Regions from separate parts of the Homo sapiens genome. Here region 1 is linked to region 2. Evidence: fine-mapped expression QTL. A gene starts in region 2. The other region holds a variant in brackets. All regions are shown on one strand. Distances are from middle to middle.

Region 1 (5,377 bases), 57 kb before region 2:
AATGATTTTACAATTTATCCTTACTGTCTGTTAGTTCTAATTCATCACTTTGCTCAGTGCACAAATCCAAATCTCTGCCCCAAAACGAACATTTAATTCCTGAATATATCAAGTGCTAACTAATACTCCAATACCCATCATTGACCAAAATGTAACTCTTTACATAGAAAATCATTTCCCCACTGAAATCACTGCCAGGGATTTACCTATGTTTGCTGTAATCAAAGTCAAATTTTGCATCAATTCTATCCCATCTTACAGACTCTCCACTAAGAGATAGTTATGTCCATTTCTCTAACTTATCTAGTAACTTTATTAGTCCCCAGCTGGACTCCAATCTAGGCTCTAAGTCTCTCCTATCACTAAAAACCCATTTTTCCTTCCCCCTCCTTCAGACCTCTTGGAGGACAGATTTCTGGCCTCCTCCTTCATGCTTGGTAGCCTTCCCATAAGGCCCCCAGCAATACTATTACAGGCCTCTGGCCCCTCCCTCTCCTTCCCTCTGGACATAATAACCAACCCTGCTGTTGTTTTACTTAGGATATCTCCATTTCACCAGGCTCACCCAACACTCATCAGTGACATCTTAATAGTCTTTGCAACTTTCAAAGGCCAGTGACTCAGGCTCCACTTTGGAAATCACTGGTGTGTCCCAAGACCCCCACAATGACTCAGTGACCTAGACATCACCAATTCACCTGCTTGGGCCCTTAACTACTCACACATTCTTCCTAGCTTCCACCTCCCCTACCCTTCAACAAGTCACTGGCCTGCAAAGTCCCCTTTACCTCTATCCATCTCAGGGGTCTTACAGACCTCATCAAACTCAATCCCAATTCCCTTATTTAGCTCTCCATCTCGCCCCTCCAACACTCCTGCATCCCAGGACCCTGGGACTGTCCTCACTCTCCTGGTTTAACCTCTCCAAGCACTGCTTGGGACACAACCTTTGAAAAAAAGAAGAGATGCCCTCTCTCTCCACCGCCCGTGAAGCACCCCCACCTCCCCCCACAGGTTCCTCCAGACTCGCCTCACTAAATCCGCAACCCTGGCCCCCGCCCCTTTTCTGCCCCCCTCCACCCCGCTCTTCGCGGCTGTGGCTACCCCTGCCCCCAAACCGGCTCAAAACACGCGGACGCGGACCTGGCCCCCACTACCCCCGGCTCCGGTCCTTCCCCTCCCCCTCCCCCAGGTGCCACTTACCCCGGAGGCAGGAGTGGGGGAGGGGAGAGGAGGTGCGGAGCAGGGAAAGAGGCTTGGGTCCGGGGCGGCTCTCAGCCCCGCGGGGCCGGGGCCAGCGGCAGCGGCGGCGCAGCGTCTCCCCCCGGCGGCGGCAGCGGCGGCGGCGGCGCCGTCCCACTCCGGCAAGCACACATAGGCTCCATTGTCCGCCGGCGCCTCCCCCTTTCCGGCTCCCCCCTCCCGGTCCCGCCCCTTCCCTCCCTTCGGCCCTCCCCCGCCGCACCGCGCCACGAAAGGTACAGCCGGCCCCGCCTCGGACGCGAGCGGAGGGTGCCCCCTCCCCACCGGCCCGACGTCCCGCCCGCGGGGAACCGGGACCGCCCCGCCCCGCCTCAGCGTCCGGCCCCGCGACCAGCAAGGGCCCGCCCCTCCAGGGAAAGTCGCTCGTGCCCCTTCAGGGAAAGTCGCTCGTCCCCCTCCCCAGACGCGCGCGATGGTACCAACCCGCCGCGGCCTCCTCCCGCCCCCAGCTTCCCGCAGGGCCCTGCCCACCAGGCAGCCGCACCTCCCGCCGCCCCGCCCCCGATATTTTACTACGGGCCCGCCCACCGCCGGCACCACCTCCTGGTTTGCATAGGCACGCCCGCCAGGGCCCGCCCCGGACCGTCACCCGGCTGGAGGGGACGCCCACTCCCCCCTTAAAGCGGCAGAGCTCTAGTCCCCAACTCCAGAGCCTCCTGAGGGGCCGGCGGGGCGGGAGGTTCGGCACGGGAGGGTCTCCTCTTCCCGTCCCCTCCTCCCCACGCGCTCACTCTCCCGGACCTTCCCGCCGCCTCGCGCAGTCCTGGGAGCAACCGAGGGGGGCGGGGGGCCAGGAAAGGCGCGGAGGGGGAAGGGCAGCGTGGAATTTGGCCATCTTTTGACAGAAACGAATTGAAGAGCCGGTCTTTCCCTCACTCTTCCCTGCTGCCCAGGTCCCGGCCTAGCCCTCAACCTTCAAGGCCACCTCCTCACACCTTCGGGACGCAGTTCCACCCCGCTTTCCTGTCCCTTCTCTCCACCTCTGAGTCTGCACCGCCTGGGCCATGGCCGGCTTTCTCCCCTCGCAGGAGAGCAGCCCCCACCCAGGACTGCGCTCTCCTCCGCCCTCTGCGAAGTGCAGGAGTCCCGCTGATGCGCCGGGGGTGCAGGGGTCTCCTTTCACATCCGGCCCAGCCCAGCCTGGCTCAGGCATCGCTGCCTGGTGCCCACAGAGGGAACCTCTGTCCAGGACCTCACGTCGCTTCACAGCCGGGCTAGCTCCCCTAATTTTTCGGAAGACCTCTGCTCTGAAGGGGTCAAAGCCTGAGTATCCCGGCGCTGTTGTGAGAGGGTAGCCCATTAGATTACACTTTTTCTCAGAAGGAAAAAATGACGGCATCATGGTTAGAGCATGTTGCTGAATCAAAGCTCAGATTCGGGCTATTCTGCTCCATCTGTGTGGCCCCGGTTGCTGCGGTGAACAACCGTTATTATAGATCTGTCTGCTCTGCACCCTCCCCAGAATACACTGTTGTTACACCTCTGTCCTTGTGCCTTGTGGGGTCTTGATCTAAGTTAGCTGCTTCGGCAACTGTGTGCACTGACCCCGCAGCTCTTCTGGATCCGTTAGGTGAAGACTGCCCATGTTAGAGTGTACTGCGTGTTCTCCCTGGA[G/A]ACAGATGGAGGCAATATGGCCAGGAGGACGAGATAAATCTTCTGCTCTTGCTTCTATCACCCATGGTTTTAACCAGGGTACTTATTCCTGTGTCAGTTTCCCTTCCTAAAGGAAACCTTCCTTGGGCAACCTTTTAAGGAATGGTGCTAGTTGTAAAGGATGGTCAAGAGAGCCCTAAATGATAAAGCCGATCTGCTTTCGAAATCATTTAAAACTCTTTAACTGGTCAACGTAAGTTACCATAGCCGCCTCCCCTGCTTAGATCCTATGAAAAACTGTGGCAAGGTATTTTCTCTTTGTCTTCTGTCATGACTGAGGATATAAATTAAATAAAGAAGAAAGGCAATAGTTGGTATAAACAATATCAAGATCAATTGAAGAATTCCAAATAGAAAATAATTAAAATGCCTTTTGTCAAGTTTGGGGCATAGAATATTTGATGTAACATAGCTAAGAACCCCTGTAAAAGAAGGCAGGAGGAAAAAGTCAGGTATGGACTTACGGACTTTTCTTATGGTATTAGAAAAGACAACCAAATCAGCAATATGCAAGAAACATTTGGGATTGCTAATGTAGGTGGAAAGAAGGAACTCACAGAACTTGTCTATAAGAGAAAACCACTGCCAAAATAAGCTCTGGCCTGGGGGGAATCCCAGACCAGATCACCTCTGCTCAGCAAGCTCAAAACAAACTCATTAAAACAATAATACACATGTTAAAAGAAAGTCTTAGCCATTTTACTAAGCGTTAAGCCCTCATGCAGCCATTATGTGTCAAAGTTCAAAATTATTATTGAATCAGAAGAAAAATGCAAATGAATATTAAACATACGACACTAGGGTAAAAGAATAATACTATTGAGAATTTAAGCACGCTAAAAAGTCATGAAATCTAAAGGTTAGAGGTTCCATAGAAATGGTAATTTAGCTACATTGCACATGGGATAGAAATGTGTTTTAAACTAGGATTTATTCTATTAAATAGGTTATTTTACTAGAATTTTTGCCCTCTGAATTTTCTACCTTGTATGCATTTTCATCTCACTTGAGAAAGAATTCTATTTTGGTGTATAAGGATTTAACACACTGTATATACATAAACATTAATGGATAATGAAATGCTTTTTTAAAAGCATCCTATGAATAAGAGCTTCAAACTGGTACTGCTACTCTAGAAATTTTAAGATAAGAAATCATTTTTTTACCCAAATGGTAAAATTGCTAAAAATAAAGGATTTTGATGCTAAAGAGACTTGGTTTTGATTTTCTCACTTACTGAAATTTGCTTCTCATAATGATGAGCACTCACTGTGTTGCAAACATAGATGATGTAAGTTTGACTTCTTAGTTCTTTAGCTAATCATAGCATTTATGTTAGGTTTGCCTCCAGTTTTTCCACCTGTAAACTCCACTTTCAAGTTGAGGCAACAAGTGCTTTTGTTTCCTCCGTTCTTGATAAACTTAAACCTAAATTTTAGGATTGGAAGGAATTCCATTCTGTCTTACAGAATGCTAAGGCATAGAAGTTCAATGATTTGCCAAGATTATGCTCAGTTTTAGGGACTAGAATTTGAGTCCAAGACTCCACAGCAGTATTCTAAATTCCAATGATTGTTCATTCCTAACAATATTTATTATTGTAGGAGAGAATATGAAAGTCTTCCTCAGAAATGATGAAACCAAGACTAACAAAGGTTGAGCCCACTCAGCCAGCTAGTATCAGGGTTATAAGAGGGCTTAACAAATTCTTGCCTTGGTCAAAGCCCTCAGCTTGTCCATGGGCTCCTGCTGCTTGTACTATTAATATTTATTACCGATTCATCTACCTCATTGTTCACCAAAACTGGTGAATTTCAGCTCCAAAAGAATACTACCAAGAGAGTCATTAATAATTGAAAATGATGGGTTAGAATGGAATAGCATCTAACCATTAGAAAGTCAGTCTAATCTCGGCCAGGCGCGGTGGCTCACGCCTGGAATCCCAGCACTCTGGGAGGCCGAGGCGGGCGGATCACGAGGTCAGGAGATTGAGACCATCCTGGCTAACACGGTGAAACCCCGTCTCTACTAAAAATACAAAAAATTAGCAGGGTGTGGTGGCCGGCGCCTGTAGTCCCAGCTACCCGGGAGCCTGAGGCAGGAGAATGGCGTGAACCCGGGAGGCGGAGCTTGCAGTGAGCCTAGATCGCTCCACTGCACTCCAGCCTGGGCGACAGAGCGAGACTCCGTCTCAAAAAAAAAAAAAAAGAAAAGAAAAAAAAGAAAGTCAATCTAATCTCTTGACTTTCATAGTGCTGTGCCCCAATGCTGTAATAACATAGCCAGGAAATTATTTCTTTTTAGGTTTTCCAGGCAAAAGAAACAAATCTCCTTATCCTACCTTTCACCAGTCTATTGAAGTCAATGGGGGAGTCCCAGAGCTTCATCCCTGGCTGGAAAATTTAAAACTAATTGTCTCCTTCGTTAGGTGGAAATCAATTTTCCCACCTCCTTTCCTCCT
Region 2 (5,377 bases):
CTCTTGCAGCTGAGTGTTTAGTACCAGCCCTGGAAGAACGATGGAATCAGTAAAACGAGATCAGAGTCTCACTAACCACGGTCAACATGAATTATCCAGGTAACAATGTTAGGCTGCTCACTACAAGAGTGAAGTTACTTCATGGCACAAGTGTAGGGGATTAGCAGATATTATTTGTTGGTCTGTGTGCTAAGAAAAAGAGAGAGAGTGAAGGATGGTGAGAGAGGGAAGGAGAATTTTCTGCTCTTTGGAATTGCTGGGCTCCCTGTGAATAGGAATGGCACCAGTGGAATGGAGGTTGGCTGGGGCAAGGGGAACTCAGCCACACAGAGAAAGAGAACAGTTAGCTTATGTCTAGTTACACACTTTGAGTCAATAACTTATGCAACTCTATGCACTCCGTCATAATACTTGCATGCTATTCAACAAGTATCATCAATATTATGATTACTGGTTTGTGTGACCATGTGGTTAATGTTGATCATACCAACAAGACTGTAAGTTCCCTGAGGGCAGGGGTATATCTGCCTTTCTCTTCCTATATCCTCAGTGCCCAGTATTTGCCTGCTGCAGAGTAAAGAGCCCCAAAATATAAGTTGAATGAACAAATGAATACATGAATGAATTTATGCAAATTCATGTTGTGGACCCATGTTTGCATATTTGTACCATTTGATGACATGAGCAGGGCAGAGTGTGCTGCTGTAATCCAGCACAGCAAGCAGAACTACAAAAGGTGCCTCTCTTTGGTTGGCCAAGTGCTGGAGTTTGTAAAATCAAATGTGGGTGTGAGGTAAGGGTACCCGGCATGAAGACCCTTGGGGTACTCTGAACCCCAGGGTGTGGTCTAGATGTTACCACAGCTTTGTTGCACCCGCCTCAGATCAGTGCTTATCTCTCTTGGACCTTAACATCCTCATCTATAACATGATGGAATAACACTTCTTTTTCCTTGCAGTTCTTAAATTCTAACATTTTAGGAAGATATCTGGACCCTGAAATCTTGTCAGGAACAACCATGGTAAGATCTCTGACTATAAAGTAGAAAACAACTAAGTTTTCAGATATATATATGCATAAAATACAGCTTTATTTTAATAAAACCTTAAATGTAGGGGGACCTTCTTGCCAGATCCAGGCCAACTAATGGCTTTCCTTCAGCTTTTCCCATACTCAGAAGTCAGGTTTCCAGGCCTCTGTGAAAAGCACATAAATATTCTCAGCCAGGGCTGGCCCTTTGCTTCAATCTCCAGCTATCACAGGGAGTCAGTCTGATAAACATTTGCAGTTAGAATGGAAGGAGGCACAGCCTCCTAGACTTTTACAGATTTTTTTGGACAAGTAGCAGAGTCACAGAAAACCTAGAATTAGGTAAGAAAGCAGAACTCCTCCAGAGAATTCAGAGAGAGCTACAACTGAGAGCCTTTAAACAATCAATGTGTAGGAACAGAAGAAAGGAAATCCACAATTCAAGAAAATAAGCAGACATTTTTTTTCCTCAAAAAAAATTGTTAAGATGAATGTTAGGCACTGATTTTAGCCCTCTGTTCCATCCCTCAAGATGTCACTTGAAAAAGCAAAAGGTTTTATCCACAAAACCACCGGCGAGTAAACAGCCTTCACATTCTTAGCCTCGTACACACACAGTAAGATATTTACTCTCTGATAAACAGCAATTGTAAATAAATCTCATTTAATCTCTAAAAGCCACAATAAAAATCTTTAACCTCCAAGGTAGAGTTTACAGATGCGTCTGCATGCCCTGCCAGCCCCAGAAAACACAAGGTCTTGAATAAACTACTATACCAGGAGGCACATTTTCTCGCTCAAGCATCTTACATTGACCTTCTTTAAAACAAAAATACGTACAAGGAGGAGGAAAGGGGAAAACCCAACCCCTCCCACCCCATTCTCTGTACAAATCGGCCAATAAATCTAACGAAAAGACACAAGAGAAAAAGGACAGAAGCCAACAGGTGGAACAAGGCTTTTTGTTTCCTTAGAAATGCTCAGACACTTGATCTGTGCTCCTCAGTCTATTTGTCTCAGGGTGTCTTTAATGATGTTTTTATTACCCTGATGATGATGATCAAGAATAATGATAACACTTCTACTCTGTGATTCCACAGCATCTCTAGCTGACGATTTCTCCACGCGTTTCAGACACAGTGATCTGTTCTGTTTCGCTCAATCCCAGGGAGGCATACAGCATCCCTGATCAGCAACCTTGATTTTACAGATGGGGAAATTGAGGCACGGGGCACCCCACAACTCAACAGTCTCTACGACCAGAGGAATCCCTGAGACTGGAAAAGTTTCTGGATCGTCTTGTGGCAGAGTTCTCTTGCTCTCCCTTCTTGCCTGCCATGCCGCTCCTCCTCGGAGAGTCTGGGCTGGGGTGGTAAGGATCGGGGTGCCTCCCCTTCACAGCGAGGCACGCCAGGGCAGTGTGTGGGAAGTCCACACGCACACACAGACCCACGGGCACACTGGCACACACAAAGCTCGATGCAATCTCTGCAGTCACTCGGCGGAGCCCTGGCCGGCCCTTGCTCAGCCTGAGAATGCACAGCTCGGAGCCTGCAAGGCCTCCCTGGGCTCTGGGCTGGGGTTTCCCTGAACCAAGGCTCTGCCCTTCTCTCCCTCTTTTCCAGGCTTCCCTCTCTCGCGCTCCCTCTCTCTCTCTCTTTTCCCTCCCACCCTCACACCCTCCTCCCAGCCCTCTCCATCCACCCCTTCTCCCCCACCAACCCAGAGGCACAGATCGTGTTACTGGGGTTCCCTCGAAAGAGGGGCCATCCCCAGTCCTGGATGCCTTGAAAGACTTCCAGGGGCAACGCAGGAGCTCCAATCGCAGGACCCCAGCGCTCCTCCAGAGCAGCGCAGGAATGAGACCCCCACTTCCAGGCACAGGCGAACAAGCCTGCCACCGAAGAAGGAATTGTTAGGGCTCTTACCTTTTTTATGAGGAGAAATTCTGGAGAATCATTTCAGAAACTGAGGGGGGAAAGTGAATGAAGACAAAAAAGACCCTTTTCCCGCAATCCCTGGCCTCCTGGTATCAAGACACCAGGACAACATCAAAGCAACTTAGGGGGAACACTTTAGGGGCCTATTGTCTGCTCTGGTCTGATCTGTTTTTCTTCTGACTCCCCCTCTTGCTGCGGTGACACTTGGTACGGCCCAGGCATTCATGCCAAGTAGCTTTCACACATGGAAGCTTGTCTCAAGCAATTGCTGACAAGCCACAAACAAGACATTCTCCCTCCCTTCTCTGCGCCCCCCCACTCCTCCCCCCTCCACCTTTTCCTCCTCCCCTCTTGTCTCCCCTCCTCCTTTCTTCTGAATGCAAACTAAAACTCTCCAGTGACAGGCAGGCTCGCAGGCTTGGCCTAGCTGCGCACGCAGGCACACACACACACACACACACACACACACACACACACACACACACTCTCTCTCTCTCTCTCTCTCTCTCTCTCTCTCTCTCTCTCTCTCTCTCTCTCTCTCTCCTCTCTCTCTCTCTCTCTCTTCTCTCTCTCTCTCTTCTCTCTCTCTCTCAAGCAGCTCAGCTAGTTGCTGCTGCACTGGTGGAGTTAAGAGACAGGAAAAAGCCCAGGCTGAGTTGGGGGCAGGGAGAAAAAGAGAGGGAGAGCGAGAGCAGAGAGCCGCCTCCTGTGTCCTAGTAAAATGGCAGAAGAGAGGTGAGTCCTTTGGAAGAAAAGCAGTGGCCACACACGTGTGCACACATACACAGACTCAGGCCATCTCAGCGCCAGGAAAAGTGAAATAAATGACCCGACAAAGGAAAAAGCAAAGTCCCATTAGCTGGAGATTGGGGGAGTAGGGAGATAAGAGGGTGAGTGGCCCCAGGACTGGGGTTTCTGTTGAGTGGTTAGGTGATTTTTCTTCTTTACAATAGAGAAAAATTTGTTTCCTAAGGATCTAGCCTTCTTTCACTGCATAATTGAGCATGGACTTGAGCTACTAGTTAAAATAAAATCATGAAATGTGTAAATGTGTGAGTAAACTTAACTGTAGGTTCAACTTGTACCCAAGATATTTTTAAAGTGAAGCTTTTTTTATTTTTTTTTATTTTTTATTTTAGCAGAAACCCTAGAGAGCAGTAGCAAGGAGAGTAGTAACAAGTAGTGTAAACTAGGAGAGCTGTGAAGTGTGATGCTAAAGTTACTGATTGCCAGGCTGCTGGAATTTATGGAGGGTGGGCCTGAGAGTTGGAGGAGGGGAGGGTGAGTGTGCTGTTTTCTAGGAATAAGAGGGGAATGAGGTAGGATAATGAATATGGCAAGAAACAAGCAGGAATTTGATTGGTGTGGAGGGAGGAGGTGGGGGCTGTAAAGGAGTGGAGAGAGAGAGAGAGAGAGAGAGAGAGAGAGAGAAACAACACTGCATTAAAAAAAGAAGAAAAATGGAAGCCCAGAAAGATTGAAACATGCAGAGTAAATGAGATGGTAAAAGAAGGCATAAAATGTGAGCAAAAAGGAGCACAAAGGATGTGCAAATTTGCAGATGGCATGAAATCAGGAGGGCCAATTGAGATCAGGAAGAAGAATGACAGGATGATTATATGACATTCATATTTTTAGATACTGTGGACTCACAGACCTAACAAGGTCTCCTCTGCCTAGGCCAGAAGAGTTATCCCTATGCAACAGGATCTGAATGGAAGCTTAGCTCCTAACTGCTGCTGAATCAGTTCTGTACTTTTTCATGAAGATTGTTTAGACTCTATTCCTCAGAATCTTCCTTTACAAAATGGAAATTATGAGAACACACATCACTCATTCCTTCATAGGTATGCAGTAAAGAATAAATTATGACTTCTTTCATACTTAACACCAGCTAAATGAGGTGTCACTACCTAAAACTCACCACATCAAAGACACAGACTTGTTCCTGTTATTTTCCCCCTTAATTTGCTCCTCCATTATCCCTGATCCCTGAACTGTCTGTCCCGACTCCCATTAATGATGATGATGTGGTAATATAATAATAATAATAATAACCTTTTTTTAAGTATTTACTTGATTCTTAGCATTTTCCCACTCATTTGTATCATGAAGTAATTTTTGTTATGATCATTTCCATTTACAGATGATAGAAAAACGAGGCACAGAGAGGTTAAGCAACTTGTCTGAGGTCACACAGCAAGGCAGAGGTAGAGCTGAAATCCAACTGAGGCCTGTGTGATTCTAAAGCCCCAGCGTTTACCCGCCATATTATGCCTTCTCACTGGAGTAGTCCAGGTACTCCATGGCACTTCAAGTCCAGTCAGCCATATAAGTACACTGTTTTTTCTGTACCCCAGGGTTGGGTTTGGATCCTTTCATTTTGAGCCAGGGGAACTTCTGACCTC

What was found.
Region 1: its variant is fine-mapped to the expression of BCL9 in whole blood (TOPMed, PIP 0.97).

What each region holds. Positions count from the first base shown.
Region 1 is chr1:147,596,164-147,601,540 of GRCh38, reverse strand. The region is part of intron 1 of BCL9 (BCL9 transcription coactivator); the gene reads right to left. Among named protein-coding and RNA genes, the nearest start is that of BCL9, 57 kb to the right of the region's middle. RefSeq lists silencers at 1,052-2,101, 2,132-2,211 and an enhancer at 5,005-5,377. The variant G/A (reference allele first, on the strand shown) is at 2,878.
Region 2 is chr1:147,539,255-147,544,631 of GRCh38, reverse strand. BCL9 (BCL9 transcription coactivator) reads right to left here and starts at 3,131. Exons shown (of 10, transcript NM_004326.4): 1 at 2,958-3,131. RefSeq lists enhancers at 3,086-3,145, 2,706-3,460, 3,179-3,473.